Regions from separate parts of the Homo sapiens genome. Here region 1 is linked to region 2. Evidence: fine-mapped expression QTL. A gene starts in region 2. The other region holds a variant in brackets. All regions are shown on one strand. Distances are between the middles of the regions.

What was found. PIP is the estimated chance that this variant, and not a neighbour inherited with it, causes the effect.
Region 1: its variant is fine-mapped to the expression of FOCAD in whole blood (TOPMed, PIP above 0.99).

What each region holds. Positions count from the first base shown.
Region 1 is chr9:20,653,776-20,662,108 of GRCh38, reverse strand. It overlaps a transcript of FOCAD not described here. Among named protein-coding and RNA genes, the nearest start is that of FOCAD, 26 kb to the left of the region's middle. RefSeq lists an enhancer at 3,364-3,423. The variant G/T (reference allele first, on the strand shown) is at 3,590.
Region 2 is chr9:20,680,902-20,689,194 of GRCh38, reverse strand. It overlaps FOCAD (focadhesin), which reads right to left and starts at 4,936. Exons shown (of 44, transcript NM_001375567.1): 1 at 4,902-4,936. FOCAD-AS1 (FOCAD antisense RNA 1) reads left to right here and starts at 4,445. Exons shown (of 2, transcript NR_121601.1): 1 at 4,445-4,627; 2 at 5,654-5,893. RefSeq lists an enhancer at 4,494-5,234 and a silencer at 4,634-5,333.

The DNA of each region.
Region 1 (8,333 bases), 27 kb after region 2:
ATGTCCCATCCACTACTTGTAGATATTTTCAGTAGTTCTTTGTGCAACTAAGGCAAATATCATACATATTCATAATTCCCCATTTTTCATAGACAAAAGGTGCATACTCTACCACTGTTTTGTACCTTGCCTTTTTTTCACTTAATCTTGGTTATCTTTTCATGTCAATATATAAAGAATTTCCTCATTCTTTCTTTTACAGCAGCATTTTTTGATGGCCATTTCAGAGGTTTCCAAGCTTTTACTAATAACAGTGGTGCTTTTGCCCACATCATTTTGTACCTGCCTAAGTATATCTGTAGGATAAAGTGACAGAAGTAGAATTTCTGAGTCTAAGTGTAAATGCCTTTGTAATCTGGTATTACTGAATTAACTTCCATAGGGCTTGCAGCAATATGTACTCAATGTATCCTATGTTTAGCAATATGAAAATTAGACACAATGGCTGATTTTCTAAATATTGACCTCTTTTTCCCAGTGTGACAAAATGTAAAACAGTAGGAAGAGAGATAGTGAGAAAAAGAAGGACACTGAGAATATCTCAGTTTAACAGTTCCCTCTTAGACTTTAATTACCTGCCTAGTCTGTGCTCCTTGGCCCATCAAGTGAACAACTGCCTCCCAACCATTTAAATTCCCTCATTTTTAACACCTCCCTTTCCCCACTCCTCACAACCAAGTCAGGTTTTTCTATCACAGCCTGCTGCAAAACCCAGTCTTGAGACAATCTTATAATACATGTTGTCTACTCTTCCTCCTACAGAACTCAGCACATTGGAGACTATCATACATCTTTAAGTGGTGCTGACACTACAATTTCAATGTTTCTCCTGTCTATTGAGCCCTTCATGCTACTTCTCAGTCCTTTTACTAGTCTTTGGTTGTCTCCCAACCCATTCTCCTCTACCACATTTTTCAGATAACTTTGCTTCCGTACTTCTCAGAGAAGACCAAGAACATCAGAGTGAATGCCATCATTTTCAGTTGCCATTGCCAAACATCTCCACAGCCTCCTTAGCTCTCCAGCTGTGCTCTTAATTCTACTTCTCTAATTTCTCTAAAACATCCCTTCTCAAATTATTCCTCTCTGTCTTAAACCTCCCCTCTTCTGCTGACTCCTTTCCCGTGGTCTATGAACATGTTCAACCACTCCATTTTAATCACAGTCTTGTCATGGAATGTCCCCATAATTTTTGCCCAAATTGCTCTCTCTCTCTCTCTTTCTCTTTGACTGTCTGCCTCTCATATCCTTCTCTGCCATAATTCTTCTTTTATTTCTGTATGCTCTTTTTCTAACTTCTCCAGTCACTATGATCTGACTTCTGATCCTTCTCCCTCAAACCCAAATAAAATGACCCTTGCTGGGGCTACCAGCTTTCTCCTACTTTTCACATCCAGTGAACACTTTTCTGAGTCTGTTACTTGGTATCTCTGTGGCATTGATACTGTTGGCCACTTCTCATCTTGGTCTTCCTTCCATCATTCTAACCAAACTGTTGCTGTCTCTTCGGATCTTCTTTTTCTGCTGATCTCTACATATTGGTATTGAAATGTCCTCAGATTTTATACTGACTTCTTTTCTTCTCACCCTATAGAAATCTTCTTTCTAAGGGATCTGAATATTTTTCCATAATTTTAACTACCAACTACATGAAGAGGCAAATCACCTTGTCAAGATACATGCCCTAAAACCAGACTGTATGGGCTCATAGCCTGACTCTACACTTCCTGGCTGAGAGTAACTTTGGGTATTTTTTCTCTGCCTCAATTTCCTCATCTTTAAAATGGGAATAACAGTAGTTTCTACACCATAGGTCATTGTAAGGATATGTGACATCCAAAGGGTTCAGAATATTGCTTGGCGCCTGATAAGCCCTAGGTTAAGTGTTAACCATAACTACTATTATTGCTGTTATTATTGCTGATGGCTCACAAGTTATTGTCTGTAGCCTCTCTTATCTCCTCGTCTCCACATCTGGATATTTAGCTACCACTGAACCTGTCCATAAGGATGTCCCACAGGTACTCCAAGAAAACATCTCAAAAAACCAAACTCATTATCTTGAAAACAAAACTGAATTATCTTCCTATATTTCTTACTTCAGGCCTTGATGGCATATTATTCACCCAGCCACTTGAGCAAGAAACCTGGAAAATGTTGCCAACTTATCCACTCTCTCTCCATTAATTTTTACCTCTGAGCTATCTCTCATATCTCATTGCACCACTCCGATGGTCACTGCCTTAGTCAAGCCCTTCCCATCTCTTGCCTAGACTGATGCAATATCCTAACTGATCTGCCCACCTGCATCTCACTGCTTTCCAATGCTTTCACAATGCCATCAAAATGACTGCTTCCCTGCATAAAATCTTTCAATGACTATTACTACATTAGTTTGCTACAGCTGCCATAACAAAGTATCACAGGTTGGGTGACTTAGACAACAGAAATTTATTTTCTTCCAGCTCTGGATGCAGGGAAATCCAACATCAAAGTGTTAGCAGGCCTGCTTTCTCCCGAGGCCTAGCTCCTTGACATGCAGATGACCACTTTCTCACCATATCCTCCCATGATCTTTCCTCTATGTGCATACATCCTGGGTGTCTCTTTGGCCAAACTTCCTCTTCTTATATCTTAATCACCTCTTTTTCTTTCTGTCTGTCTGTCTTTCTTTCTTTCTTTCTCCTTTCTTTCTCTTTTTTTTTAGATGGAGTCACTCTGTCACTCAGGCTGGAGTGCAGTGGCGCCATCTTGACTCACTGCAACCTCCTCCTCCCATGTTCAGGCGATTCTCATGCCTCAGCCTCCGAATTAGCTGGAACTACAGGCACACACCACCATGCCAGGCTAACTTTCTTTTTAAATTTTTTTGTGTGGGGCGGGGGGAGGGGAGCAGAGTCTCACTCTGTTCCCTAGGCTGGAGGGCAGTGGTGCCATCTTGGCTCACTGAAACCTCCGCCCCCCAGGTTTAAGTGATTATCCTTCCTCAGCCTGCCAAGTAGCTGGGACTACAGGCGCACACCACCACAGCCAGCTAATTTTTTGAATTTTTAGTAGAAATGGGGTTTTGCCATGCTGGCTAGGCTGGTCTAGAACTCCTGAGCTCAGGCAATCACCCACCTCAGCCTCCCAAAGTGCTAGGCGTGAGCCACCACACCCTGTCACTTAATCACCTCTTTAAAGGCCCTATTTCCAAATACAGTCACATTCTGAGGTACTAGGGGTTGGAACTTCAGCATAGGAATTTGGGGGAAAACAATTCAACCCATAAGAATCACCTACCAATTAAGAATGGAGTTAGTTGCAGGGAGGAGCAAAGATGGCCGAATAGGAACAGCTCCGGTCTACAGCTCCCAGCGTGAGCGATGGAGAAGACGGTGATTTCTGCATTTCCATCTGAGATACCGAGTTCATCTCACTAGGGAGTGCCAGACAGTGGGCGCAGGTCAGTGGGTGCATGCACCGTGCGCGAGCCGAAGCAGGGCGAGGCATTGCCTCACCTGGGAAGCGCAAGGGGTCAGGGAGTTCCCTTTCCGAGTCAAAGAAAGGGGTGACAGACGGCACCTAGAAAATCGGGTCACTCCCACCC[G/T]AATACTGCGCTTTTCCGACGGGCTTAAAAAACGGCGCACCACGAGATTATATTCCGCACCTGGCTTGGAGAGTCCTACGCCCACGGAGTCTCACTGATTGCTAGCACAGCAGTCTGAGATCAACCTGCAAGGCGGCAGCGAGGCTGCGGGAGGGGCGCCCGCCATTGCCCAGGCTTGATTAGGTAAACAAAGCAGCCGGGAAGCTCGAACTGGGCGGAGCCCACCACAGCTCAAGGAGGCCTGCCTGCCTCTGTAAGCTCCACCTCTGGGGGCAGGGCACAGACAAACAAAAAGACAGCAGTAACCTCTGCAGACTTAAGTGTCCCTGTCTGACAGCTTTGAAGAGAGCAGTGGTTCTCCCACCACGCAGCTGGAGATCTGAGAACGGGCAGACTGCCTCCTCAAGTGGGTCCCTGACCCCTGACCCCTGAGCAGCCTAACTGGGAGGCACCCCCCAGCAGGGGCACACTGACACCTCACATGGCAGGGTATTCCAACAGACCTGCAGCTGAGGGTCCTGTCTGTTAGAAGGAAAACTAACAAACAGAAAGGACATCCACACCAAAAACCCATCTGTACATCACCATCATCAAAGACCAAAAGTAGATAAAACCACAAAGATGGGGAAAAAACAGAACAGAAAAACGGGAAACTCTAAAAAGCAGAGCGCCTCTCCTCCTCCAAAGGAACGCAGTTCCTCACCAGCAACGGAACAAACCTGGATGGAGAATGACTTTGATGAGCTGAGAGAAGAAGGCTTCAGACGATCAAATTACTCTGAGCTACGGGAGGACATTCAAACCAAAGGCAAAGAAGTTGAAAACTTTGAAAAAAATTTAGAAGAATGTATAACTAGAATAACCAATACAGAGAAGTGCTTAAAGGAGCTGATGGAGCTGAAAACCAAGGCTCGAGAACTACGTGAAGAATGCAGAAGCCTCAGGAGCCGATGCCATCAACTGGAAGAAAGGGTATCAGCAATGGAAGATGAAATGAATGAAATGAAGCGAGAAGGGAAGTTTAGAGAAAAAAGAATAAAAAGAAATGAGCAAAGCCTCCAAGAAATATGGGACTATGTGAAAAGACCAAATCTACGTCTGATTGGTGTACCTGAAAGTGATGGGGAGAATGGAACCAAGTTGGAAAACACTCTGCAGGATATTATCCAGGAGAACTTCCCCAATCTAGCAAGGCAGGCCAACGTTCAGATTCAGGAAATACAGAGAACGCCACAAAGATACTCCTCGAGAAGAGCAACTCCAAGACACATAATTGTCAGATTCACCAAAGTTGAAATGAAGGAAAAAATGTTAAGGGCAGCCAGAGAGAAAGGTCAGGTTACCCTCAAAGGGAGGCCCATCAGACTAACAGCGGATCTCTCGGCAGAAACCCTACAAGCCAGAAGAGAGTGGGGGCCAATATTCAACATTCTTAAAGGAAAGAATTTTCAACCCAGAATTTCATATCCAGCCAAACTAAGCTTCATAAGCGAAGGAGAAACAAAATACTTTACAGACAAGCAAATGCTGAGAGATTTTGTCACCACCAGGCCTGCCCTAAAAGAGCTCCTGAAGGAAGCGCTAAACATGGAAAGGAACAACCGGTACCAGCCGCTGCAAAATCATGCCAAAATATAAAGACCATCAAGACTAGGAAGAAACTGCATCAACTAACGAGCAGAATAACCACCTAACATCATAATGACAGGATCAAATTCACACATAACGCTATTAACTTTAAATGTAAATGGACTAAATGCTCCAATTAAAAGACACAGACTGGCAAATTGGATAAACAGTCAAGACCCATCAGTGTGCTGTATTCAGGAAACCCATCTCACGTGCAGAGACACACATAGGCTCAAAATAAAAGGATGGAGGAAGCTCTACCAAGCAAATGGAAAACAAAAAAAGGCAGGGGTTGCAATACTAGTCTCTGATAAAACAGACTTTAAACCAACAAAGATCAAAAGAGACAAAGAAGGCCATTACATAATGGTAAAGGGATCAATTCAACAAGAAGAGCTAACTATCCTAAATATATATACACCCAATACAGGAGCACCAAGATGCATAAAGCAAGTCCTGAGTGACCTACAAAGAGACTTAGACTCCCACACAATAATAATGGGAGACTTTAACACCCCACTGTCAACATTAGACAGATCAACGAGACAGAAAGTCAACAAGGATACCCAGGAATTGAACTCAGCTTTGCACCAAGCAGACCTAATAGACATCTACAGAACTCTCCACCCCAAATCAACAGAATATACATTTTTTTCAGCACCACACCACACCTATTCCAAAATTGACCACATACTTGGAAGTAAAGCTCTCCTCAGCAAATGTAAAAGAACAGAAATTATAACAAACTATCTCTCAGACCACAGTGCAATCAAACTAGAACTCAGGATTAAGAATCTCACTCAAAACCGCTCAACTACATGGAAACTGAACAACCTGCTCCTGAATGACTACTGGGTACATAACAAAATGAAGGCAGAAATAAAGATGTTCTTTGAAAACAACGAGAACAAAGACACAACATACCAGAATCTCTGGGACACATTCAAAGCAGTGTGTAGAGGGAAATTTATAGCACTAAATGCCCACAAGAGAAAGCAGGAAAGATCTAAAATTGACACCCTAACATCACAATTAAAAGAACTAGAAAGGCAAGAGCAAACACATTCAAAATCTAGCAGAAGGCAAGAAATAACTAAAATCAGAGCAGAACTGAAGGAAATAGAGACACAAAAAACCCTTCAAAAAAGTCATGACTCCAGGAGCTGGTTTTTTGAAAGGATCAACAAAATTGATAGACCGCTAGCAAGACTAATAAAGAAAAAAAGAGAGAAGAATTTAATAGACACAATAAAAAATGTCTTATCTCTTATGGCTATCTGTGATTAGTGATCTTTGATGTTACTCTTGCAATTGCATTGGTGCACCACAAACCACACCCTAGAAGACTTGAATTTAATTGAGAAATGTTGTGTGTGTCCTGATTGTTCCACGCTTCCACAGATCAGACATTCCCCCATCTCTCTCCCTTTGTTCAGGCCTCCTTATTCCCTGAGAAATAACAATATTGAAATTAGACCAATAACCCTAAGACTTCTAAACGTTCAAGTGAAAAGAAGAGTCACTCATCCCTCACTAGCAATCAAAAGCTAAAAACGATTAAGCATCTCAAAAGCCATGGTAGGCTGAAAGCTAGGCCTCTTGCATCAGTTAGCCAAATTGTGAATGCAAAGGGAAAGTTATTGAGGAAAATTAAAAAGAGCTACTCCAGTGAACACATGAATGCTAAGAAAGCAAAACAGCCTCGTTCCTGATACGGAGAAAGTTTTGGCGGTCAGGATATAAAATCAAACCAGCCACAGCATTCTCTAAAGCCAAAACCTAATCCAGAGCAAGGCTCTAACTCTCTTCAATTCTATGAAGGCTGAGACACATGAGGAAGGTGCAGAAGAAAATTTAGAAGCTAGCAGATTGGTTCATGAAGTTTAAAGAAGGAAGTCATCTTCAAAACATAAAAGTGCAAAGTGAAGCTGCAAGTGCTGATGTAAAAGTTGCAGCAAATTATCCAGATCTAGCTGAGATCACTGATGAAGGAGGAACACTAAACAACATATTTTCAGTGTAGATGAAACACCTTTCCATTGAAAGAATATGCCATCTAGAAATTTTATAGCTAAAGAGGAGAAGTCAGTGCCTTGCTTCAAAGCTTCAAAAGACAGGTTGACCCTCTTGTTAGGGGCTGATGGCTTTCATTTGAAACCAATGCATACTTACTATTCTGAAAATTTTAGGGCCCTTAAAAATGATGCTAAATCCATTCTGCCACTGTTTTATAAGTGAAATCACAAAGCCTGAATGACAGCACTTCTGTTTATAGCATGGTTTACCGAATATTTTAAGCCCCGTGTAAAGACTTACTGCTCAGGAAAAAAAAAAAAAAAAAGATTCCTTTCATCCTCACTGACAATGTACCTGGTTACACAAGAGCTGTGATGGAGATGTACAAGGAGATGAATGTTACTATTATGCCTGCTAACACGACATCTATTCCGCAGCCCACGGATCAAGAAGTAATTTCAGTTTTCAACTCTTTTATTATTACTATCGTTATTGTAAAGCTACAGCTGCCATAGATAGTAATTTGTCTGGTGGATCTCGGCAAAGTAAATTGAAAACCTTCTGGAAGGGGTTAACCATTATATATGCCATTAAGAACATTTGTGACTCATGGGAAGAGGTCAAAATATCAACATGAACAATTTAGAAAAAGTTGATTCCAACCTTCATGGGTGACTTTGAGGGGTTCAAGATTTCAGTAGAGGAAATCACTGCAGATGTGGCAGAAATAGCAAGATAACTATAATTAGAAGTGGAGCCTAGGGTCGGGTGGCTCACACCTGTAATCCCAGCACTTCGGGAGGCCGAGGTGGGCGGATCACGAGGTCAGGAGATCTAGACCATCCTGGCTAACACGGTGAAACCCCGTCTCTACTAAAAATACAAAAAATTATCCGGGCGTGATGGCACACGCCTGTAGTTCCAGCTACTCAGCAGGCTGAGGCAGGAGAATCGCTTGAACCCAGGAGGCGGAGGTTACAGTGAGCCGAGATCTTGCCACTGCACTCCAGCCTGGGCGACAGAGTGAGATTATGTCTCAAAAAAAAAAAAAAAAAAAAGAAAGTGGAGCCTAAAGATGACTGAACTGCTGTAATCTCAT
Region 2 (8,293 bases):
TTCCAATATTCTACTCTGACCAGAGGATTTCTATCCTTTTCATTATCTCCCTTTTAGCTACAAACACTTGTATATTTACTTCATCCAGACTTTTAATCCTTTGAACCAATTATGTTATCTCAATCTTTCAGCTCCTCCTGGCTCTATCGTCATCCCTATCCAGTCTAAACTTCACATTCCATCACTCTGACCATTCTTTCACCAATAGTTTCAACTCCTTTGCAATCTTACCATACGCACGTAACAAAATCCAAATACTGTATCAATCCAACTATTTATCATCTCTGGTTCTACTGAATTTTGCTGCCAAAAGTCACAGAATCATATGAACTAGTATTATTACAAATTAATGATCCAGGCCTATCTGGGAAACCTTCCAAAAACTGTAGTTAGCTCTTTCTCCTATTCCCTATGGCATCTGACCAGTCTCTTCTTGTTGGATTCTCTCCCTCCTTATCTTCTAGACATCCACTGTCATTAGGCTGTTCCTTCTGTCTTTTTCACTGGGTCATCTTTCCTACAGGGTAGTGTTTCCCAGCGTTTCCCTTCTGCTTTATTCTTTCTTATTCTACAAACTCTCTTAGGCATCATCCATTCTCACATTGTTTTAACTACCTATAAATTGATAGCATCCTAATCTCTATCTCCAGCCTAGAATCCTCTCTTTAACTCCAGGCCAAAGCAGCCAAATACCCACTGAACAGCACCAATTGTGTGACCTAAACCCATGTCCAAGACTACTGATCTTATTCTCCCCATACATCTGATATTGCTCATGTGATTCCTATCTCGGCAAGTCATAAACCTAGGAGGTATCCTTGACTCCATCACTCCTTCATCCCCTACATCCATCTGGCCACTAACTCAATCACCTTAATATATCTGGAATTCATCCTCTTCTCTCCAGCAGCACTGCATTTTCGGAGTTCTGTCACATGTAATGCAAATGTCTGCCTTACCCCACTACAATTCATTCCTCACATTGCCTCATGAAACTGATGTTAACTTTCTTCCACTTAAAATCTATTACTCATGGATCAACATAGCCTCCAGATTAAAGCTCAAAATGGCTAACACGGTGTGGAAGAGAACTTTCATTATTTACCCTTGTTTACTTTTTAAAGTTGATCTATTCTCTATCTTAACACATTAAGGGTCTATGTCCCGTTTCTAACCTATCTATTTGTCCTCACTGCTTTCTTGTGCCCAGAATGCCTTATCCTCTAACCTCACCAACTAATTCCTACTCACTTTCAAACTTCAATTCAGATGAAAATTCCTCCATAAAGCCTTCTCTGAATCTCCTCAAACCTTGCACACAGTTTTCTCTATCCCCCACTATACTATGTGAACGACTAATTATAATGTTTATCCCATTGTATTTTGGTGTTGTTTATGAAGTCCATGCAATACTGTAAGTTCCTTAAAGATAAGTTAAGGACCTAGCACCAAAGTAGTTGCTGTCTTTGCTGAATGAAGGAATAAATAAAAAATAATGAATACAATACCTTTAATAACTATGAGTCTTTAAAAATCACATTTACTTAAGTGTTTCAACAATTAAAAACATTTAATAAAAAGTTTCCTCCATTCTTCTCCACGTGTATGTCCTAATAGCATATACTAAAATCAGGTTTGGTTACATAAACCAACATGTGCAATGATTGGGAAATAGAGTAGAACTTAAGAATAAATTATGAAAGCAGGTAGGCCAAATAGAAAGGTTTGTCAAGAGAGAAGGGAAAGATACACCCTGGCAACCAAAAAAACTTCATAAAACTACAGTTACAACACCCACAATTACTGTATTACATTTGTTCAACATATGTATCAGCCAAATTAGCAAGAACTCATCTGACCAAAAGGAGATTAGAAGATACCTTCTCCAGTTTAGGAGCTTCAGTGGATGCTTCATTGGTCCCCGGGCAAGTAAAAAGATAAATCTTTAAATAATAGTAATAAACTGACTATCTATGCAAGTTGGATTCTCAATTTCCTTTGGCCTAAAGAAATGTTTTCTTTCATGAACAATGGAAAGCTATACAGTATTTAAAGTCAAGGGTTTTGGAACATCTTCAAAATATATAAAACTAAAGTAACTCAGACTAATTAAATGAAAGCCAATATAAACTTTTAAAATCATAAACACAATTTTATTACTTTCAATATGACCTGAGTAGGGGGAAAAAAAAAAAAAACTATGAGGCCAGAAGTACTTAGAGGGTTACAAAAACTACATTTCAATCCATTGTTTGAAAATAGATGGGCTCTTCCACATCACTTAAAACTTTGTTGTTTCAAATCATTTACATGGAGGAAATTCACAAATATCCCTTGTCCTATCAGCTTAGCAAATCTTGTTTCTTATCATGTGGAAATAGTAACAAAACCTCCATCAATCTATTACTAATTGTGAATCACAGACTTATACTCATATAAGTATACCATACTTTATTATACCATGCATCTCTAGATCTATAGATTTCTCATCTCCTAAAGAAATACTTACTACCCACTTGATCAAAATTTAAATTATCACCCTAATTTTCTTTTTGTGCTTAAACCAAGTTCTTTGTTATACATCAAGAAATACTGATTAAGATCAAGATTTGTTATAGACTAATAATCCTTAAACTATTATTTCCTTACACTTCCTCCAAATATAGTTATTATTTCTCATTGTGGTTTTTTCCCGCTAGAAGGTTAATGTCCTCAGCTCTTGAATTTTCCCCATTAACCTTGCAATCTTGATCAGGTCCATTTCTAGAACTGAAAGATGTAACACCAACGCGGAGGGATCACTTGAGGTCAGGATTTCGAGACCAGCCTGGCCAACATGGTGAAACTCCGTCTCTACTAAAAATACAAAAATTAGCTGGGTGTGGTGGCATGCGCCTGTAATCCCAGCTACTTAGGAGGCTGAGGCAGAAGAATCACTTGAACCTGGGAGGCGGAGGTTGCAGTGAGCCGAGATCGCAGCACTGCACTCCAGCCTGGGCGACAGAGTGACCCTGTCTCCAAACAAACAAAAAAATAGCAAATGCAAAATTTTAAGAAGTTATATTTTCTTAAATTTTCCAAACTCCTAATAGTGATATTAACAATTTAATTCAACTAATCACTTGTGGACAATATCCCAAAAGTATCATGAAGCTAAGAATATTATGTCTCAGACTGTTTCATAAATCATTTTAAACGGGGAAAAAGGCCAAACGATTTACCGGTAAGCACCATCAATCAATCAACAAATGAAAAACTCTGGTTATACGTCCATGAAAATTTTGATTTCAAACTATTTATTACAGGGCGCGAGGCTGTGTTCCGCCTCCTCCAGCTCCTCCTGATAACCTTTTGGTTATCAGGCGTCAACTGGAGACAACAATCAGTTAAAATCCAGTAAATTTGGGGTTAATGAAACAAATGTTAAAATAGATATAATATTGATAAACATTAGCCAAGAGATGGTAACTACCTAACATTGATTAAGTAAGCAAATAATCAAGGCAGAGGTTTTAGCTTCCACTAATCTATAAAAGCAAGTGAAAATGCTTTGAAAATTGCATTTTTATGCAATTGTTTCAATATCATACCTTTGTATGTAACATTAAAAAGCTCATGATTACTTCATTTCAAAATTCAGATGAGTCACAGTGCTTTCTACGCAGGAATTGGATGTGAATCAAAATTGTAAACATGCACTTGCTTGGTAGTCAAAAAGTGAATGTGGACAGATACAATGTTCGTTGACACAGTAAAACATAATCATAAAATGCATCCTGTGTTTTTAAAATAGTTACTTCCTGTTAACACAGTTCAGGAAACATGCCATCTACCCTCCTCTCCTGGAAAATCTCAAAATTATACTAATCCCATTCCTCTTCTTACAGATAGGCCACTGAAACCTGGAGTCATTACTGATACAGTTATCAGGATTACACCCTCAGAGCCACGATGGTTTCAGGGATACTAGAACCTGAAAATAACAAAAAAAAAAAAAATTTCCAACTCAAATCTAGACAATAAAACTAACATATAAACTGGAATAAAACGCAGGAAATGCCGATTTTAATACCTGGTATGAGGCTGACCATTAAGGCATCCATCAAAAAAGTTTGGAATGTATGAATGAATGACTGCATGAAATTGGCAGGATTTCATTCATTTCAAAAGCTCCAAATTCAGGAACCACACTGAGATATCAGGACGCCACAGCTGAAACTAAAACTCATGAAGGGTAAATGCAACATAACTGCACGTCTCCACGCGTTAGCTGCTGCGAAAATTTCAAAACATACATCTAACATACTCTTTCTTCAAGTAATTGCCGCAAGTGCGGACGGAGCCAGAGAACTAGGAGACTGAAAACAGGCCCTGCTCACCCATAAGCCTTTGCATTATAAGTGGACATGATCTGAGTGAGTCACCGGGAATGAGAAGGAGACAGTCACCCCAGGCCAGGCAGGACGCGGCCAGAATCTCCTGCTCTGCCCCCAACTAGGGAACCGGTCGAAGGAGAGTGGGACGACTGCAACCTGCTGCAGCTAAGTATGCAAGGATCGCGCCGACCGGCTTCCGAGTCGAGATCCCACTAAGTCCCACCGCAGTCACCACAGCCAGCCCTGCCCAGGTATCTCGGAGCTCCGTAACCTCAGAAGGCCTAGTCCTCCAGAAGCTGAGAGCCCCAGCAGGACCGGACGAGGGCAAAAAGCCCCCTCCCGGCTGCCCCTCGCCGCGACGCGGCCCTGCCGCCACATGCTCCACTGCCCCGTCTCCCAGCTCAGCCCCAGCCCCGCAGGGCCTCAGCCGCCCTCCATGCAAGCCGACCGGGCCGCAGGCGGCGCGACCCGGCGGCTCCCGAGCAGGGGTGCAGCGGTGGCAGCCCGCCGCCCCGCACGGCTTACCTCCCTTCTGCCACAAGCTCAGCCCAGCGCCGGCTGCCTGACGTGGCCCGCCCCGCCGCCTCGAACGCCCGGGGGCGGGGACTGCAGGAGAGAGCCAATGGGCTGCATATCGCGAGGCCCTGTTCCGCCTCCTCCGGCTGGGGCCCGCCCTCCCCGGCTCGCGCGCACGCGCGTCTAAGGCCCGGGCCGCGCACTGCGGTTGAAAGGCGGCGTGGGCGGCGGACCCGCGCTCTGCAGCCGAGCTGGTGCGGGGAGGGCTGCGCGCGGGGGCTGGCTGTGGAGCAGCACCGCAGTGAGGAGTTAGCCCAAGGAAAATCAGATTAAAGGAAACTGCCTAGAGATGCCACTGCAGCGTGCCCGGGTAGTCCTGTTGGCAGCCTGCCCCTATGCAGCTTTTGGCAATACAGAACAGCTTCTTGGTATTTGGAGATTTTGTTTCTCGGGGGAAATAAATAATACTGATAACATTAAGGATTCAGAAAATTTAAAGCAGACAGCCGACTTGCCGCGAAGACGCTTCGTTCTTCGCCTAATAGCTACTTGGTGTCTTTACTTCATTTGGCCAACACATAACACTGCAGCTCTCCACGCCACTGTGGTATATCCACTTGTTAGATAGTCCTGAGGTAGTTCTAGCCCAAGTGTTTCTGCTGATCTAATCTGGGGGGAATTGGCGCGAGTAATTATTCTGTTACGATTTTGCGCAATACTTACTGAATGATAAACATGTATTTTCTCGTGGGGCGGGGCAGGGGCTCCCACGTGAGAAGGCTGTAACAGACAGACAGCAGCCACGATGAAACACGCTGAAAAGAGCCAGCAGAAAAAAACGAGGAGAGACTGGTATGACGGAGTGGAATTCCGGTTGTGGATGACAGAATGGAAATTTTACGCAAGATGAAAGAGTTAAGACAAATTACTCTAAAAATATCTGACTTAGTTGTTTCTAAACCCTGGGGCACCCTTAGGAAAAAATAAAAATAAAAAAACAAGTGCCTGGGCCTCATCACTTGGTTGAAAAAGGTCTGCTGCCAGATCTTGACATTGATATTTTTCTAAGTTTCCAAAGTCATTTTAATGTGTAGACAAGAAGTTCTGTTTCTCATTTGTAGGAAGAATTTGGTTCCCCATCACCTCAGAAAAGTAATTATGTATCACAGACCGTTAACAGTTTTCCCAATAACCAACTATGCATTCACCCTCTAAGAATTTATCTAAATTAATCTTGGGGCCAGGTGGGGGGGCTCACACCTGTAATCCCAGCACTTTGGGAGGCCGAGGAGGGCGGAGTTCAAGACCAGCCTAGGCAACGTGGTGAAACCCCATCTCTACTAAAAAAAACATACAAAAATTAGCCCGGCGTGGGGTTGCGCGCCTGCAGTCACGGCTACTCTACTCAGGAGGCTGAGGCAGGAGAATCGCTTGAACCCGGGAGGCGGAGGTTGCAGTGAGCCGAGGTGGCGCCACTGCACTCCAGCCTCTGATGGAGTGAGACTGTCACAATCAATCATTCAATCAATCAATATTGAACCTACTTAAAGTTATTCAACCTCTGTTATCCTTTGCTTCAAAGGAGTTTTATAAGGCTTATAATTCCCTTTTTATGGACTTTGATGATACTCTCTTTCAGTCTTCCAAATGCACCAGTATTTCTTTTAGGACTATTTTAATATTTTTTCTTCTATTCCTATATTTCTTGAGGCTCATTAGTCAAAATTATAATTAAACACATAACTCTGTAAACAGCGCTGTTCTAAGTATATAAATTTATTTAATCCACAGAACAACTTTATGAGGCAGTTACAGTTATTACCCACATTTTATAAATAAGGAACCTGAAGTACAGCAAGTGAAGCATCTTGACCAAGGTCATGCACCTACCTAATGGCCAGGCCAAAACTTGAATCCAAGCACCCTGGTGCTCAATGAGTAAACGTACTGCCTCTGTTGTAGAAAGCCTGGTTTTAGGAACACACAGGGAAATGCCCATTTAAAGAATGATATTGAGTCTACTTTTGACACCGTCTTATTATGTTCAGGCTGCTATAACAAAGTATCTTAGACTGGGTAATTTATAAACAATAAAAATTTATTGTTCACAGTTCTGCAAGCCGGGAAGTCCAAGCAAGGTGCCAGCAGATTTGGAATATGGTGAGGTTCCATTCCTCATGGATGGTGCCTTCTGTGTATCATCACAGGATAGAAGGGGAAATAGATTACCTGAAGCGTCTTTTATAAGGGCACGACAGGAGTCCTCATAACCTAATCACCTCCCAATGGCCCCACCTCTTAATCCTGTTGCATTGGAGTTTAGGCTTCAACACATTAACTTTGGGGGACACAAACATGTAGGCCACAGCAGACACCTATCCTAGATTCAGATTTTGGGCAGGATTGAGAAACTTGACCATTAAACTTGGAGCCTAGAACCGATTTGACTGCTTTTACTGCAGATCTAGGGTTAAGCTGGAAGTCCATGGGCTCACCCCCTCCTTCTGGGGTATACTCCTTCCATACAGGAACTGCAATTCAGCAGGGATCATTTCACCTTTTAATTTATTTAATCTAATGCTATACCAGGCACTGTGGTAGGCACAGGAGATACCAAGATGAAAGACGTATTCTAGAGCCTTATGGAGCCAGCTCATTCTGGAGACCAAGTCAGCAGCCACCAGATTTATTTTGACAAGACTAGAGAGATAGGCTTTTAGAACTAGAAAGGATCTCAGAAGTTGCCAGTTCATGACAAAGTTTTCTCTGACAAATTCTGAAGTTAAAAAATATGGACAATGTATTAAGTTTTCATAAAAATAAATTTATTCAATTTAAAGGACTGTCCTTTTCCTGAGATTATGCTTTGTTCTTTTGTTTTGTTTTAATGTTAAAAGTACCCTCTCAGGCCGGGCATGATGGCTCACACCTATAATCCCAGCACTTTGGGAGGCCAAGTGGGAGGATAACTTGAGGCCAGGAGTTCAAGACCATCCAGGGCAACAGTGAGGGCCCCCGCCCCATCTCTATTAAAAAAAGAAAATAGAAGTTTTCTCATATGAAATGATAATAGGTTATACTTGTTGGGAATTTTATTTTAGTAAGCTTAAAGTCTTATGTTGGAACTCAAAATTTTTTTACGCTTCACTGATTTAATCTAATCAAGCCAATTACACAGAAGGGAACTAAAATTCTAAAAGGATACAGGTTCATCTTCAATTCTTCAATGTCATATGACTAATTGCTTTTTGTGGGGGGCTGTGGTTGGGCAGGGCTGTTTTTTGTTTTTGGCTTTGTTTTGGTTTGAGGCAGGATCTTACTTTGTCACACAAGCTGGGGTACAGTGACACGATCATAGCTCACTGCAGCCTCACCTCCTGAGCTCAAGCAATCCTCCCACC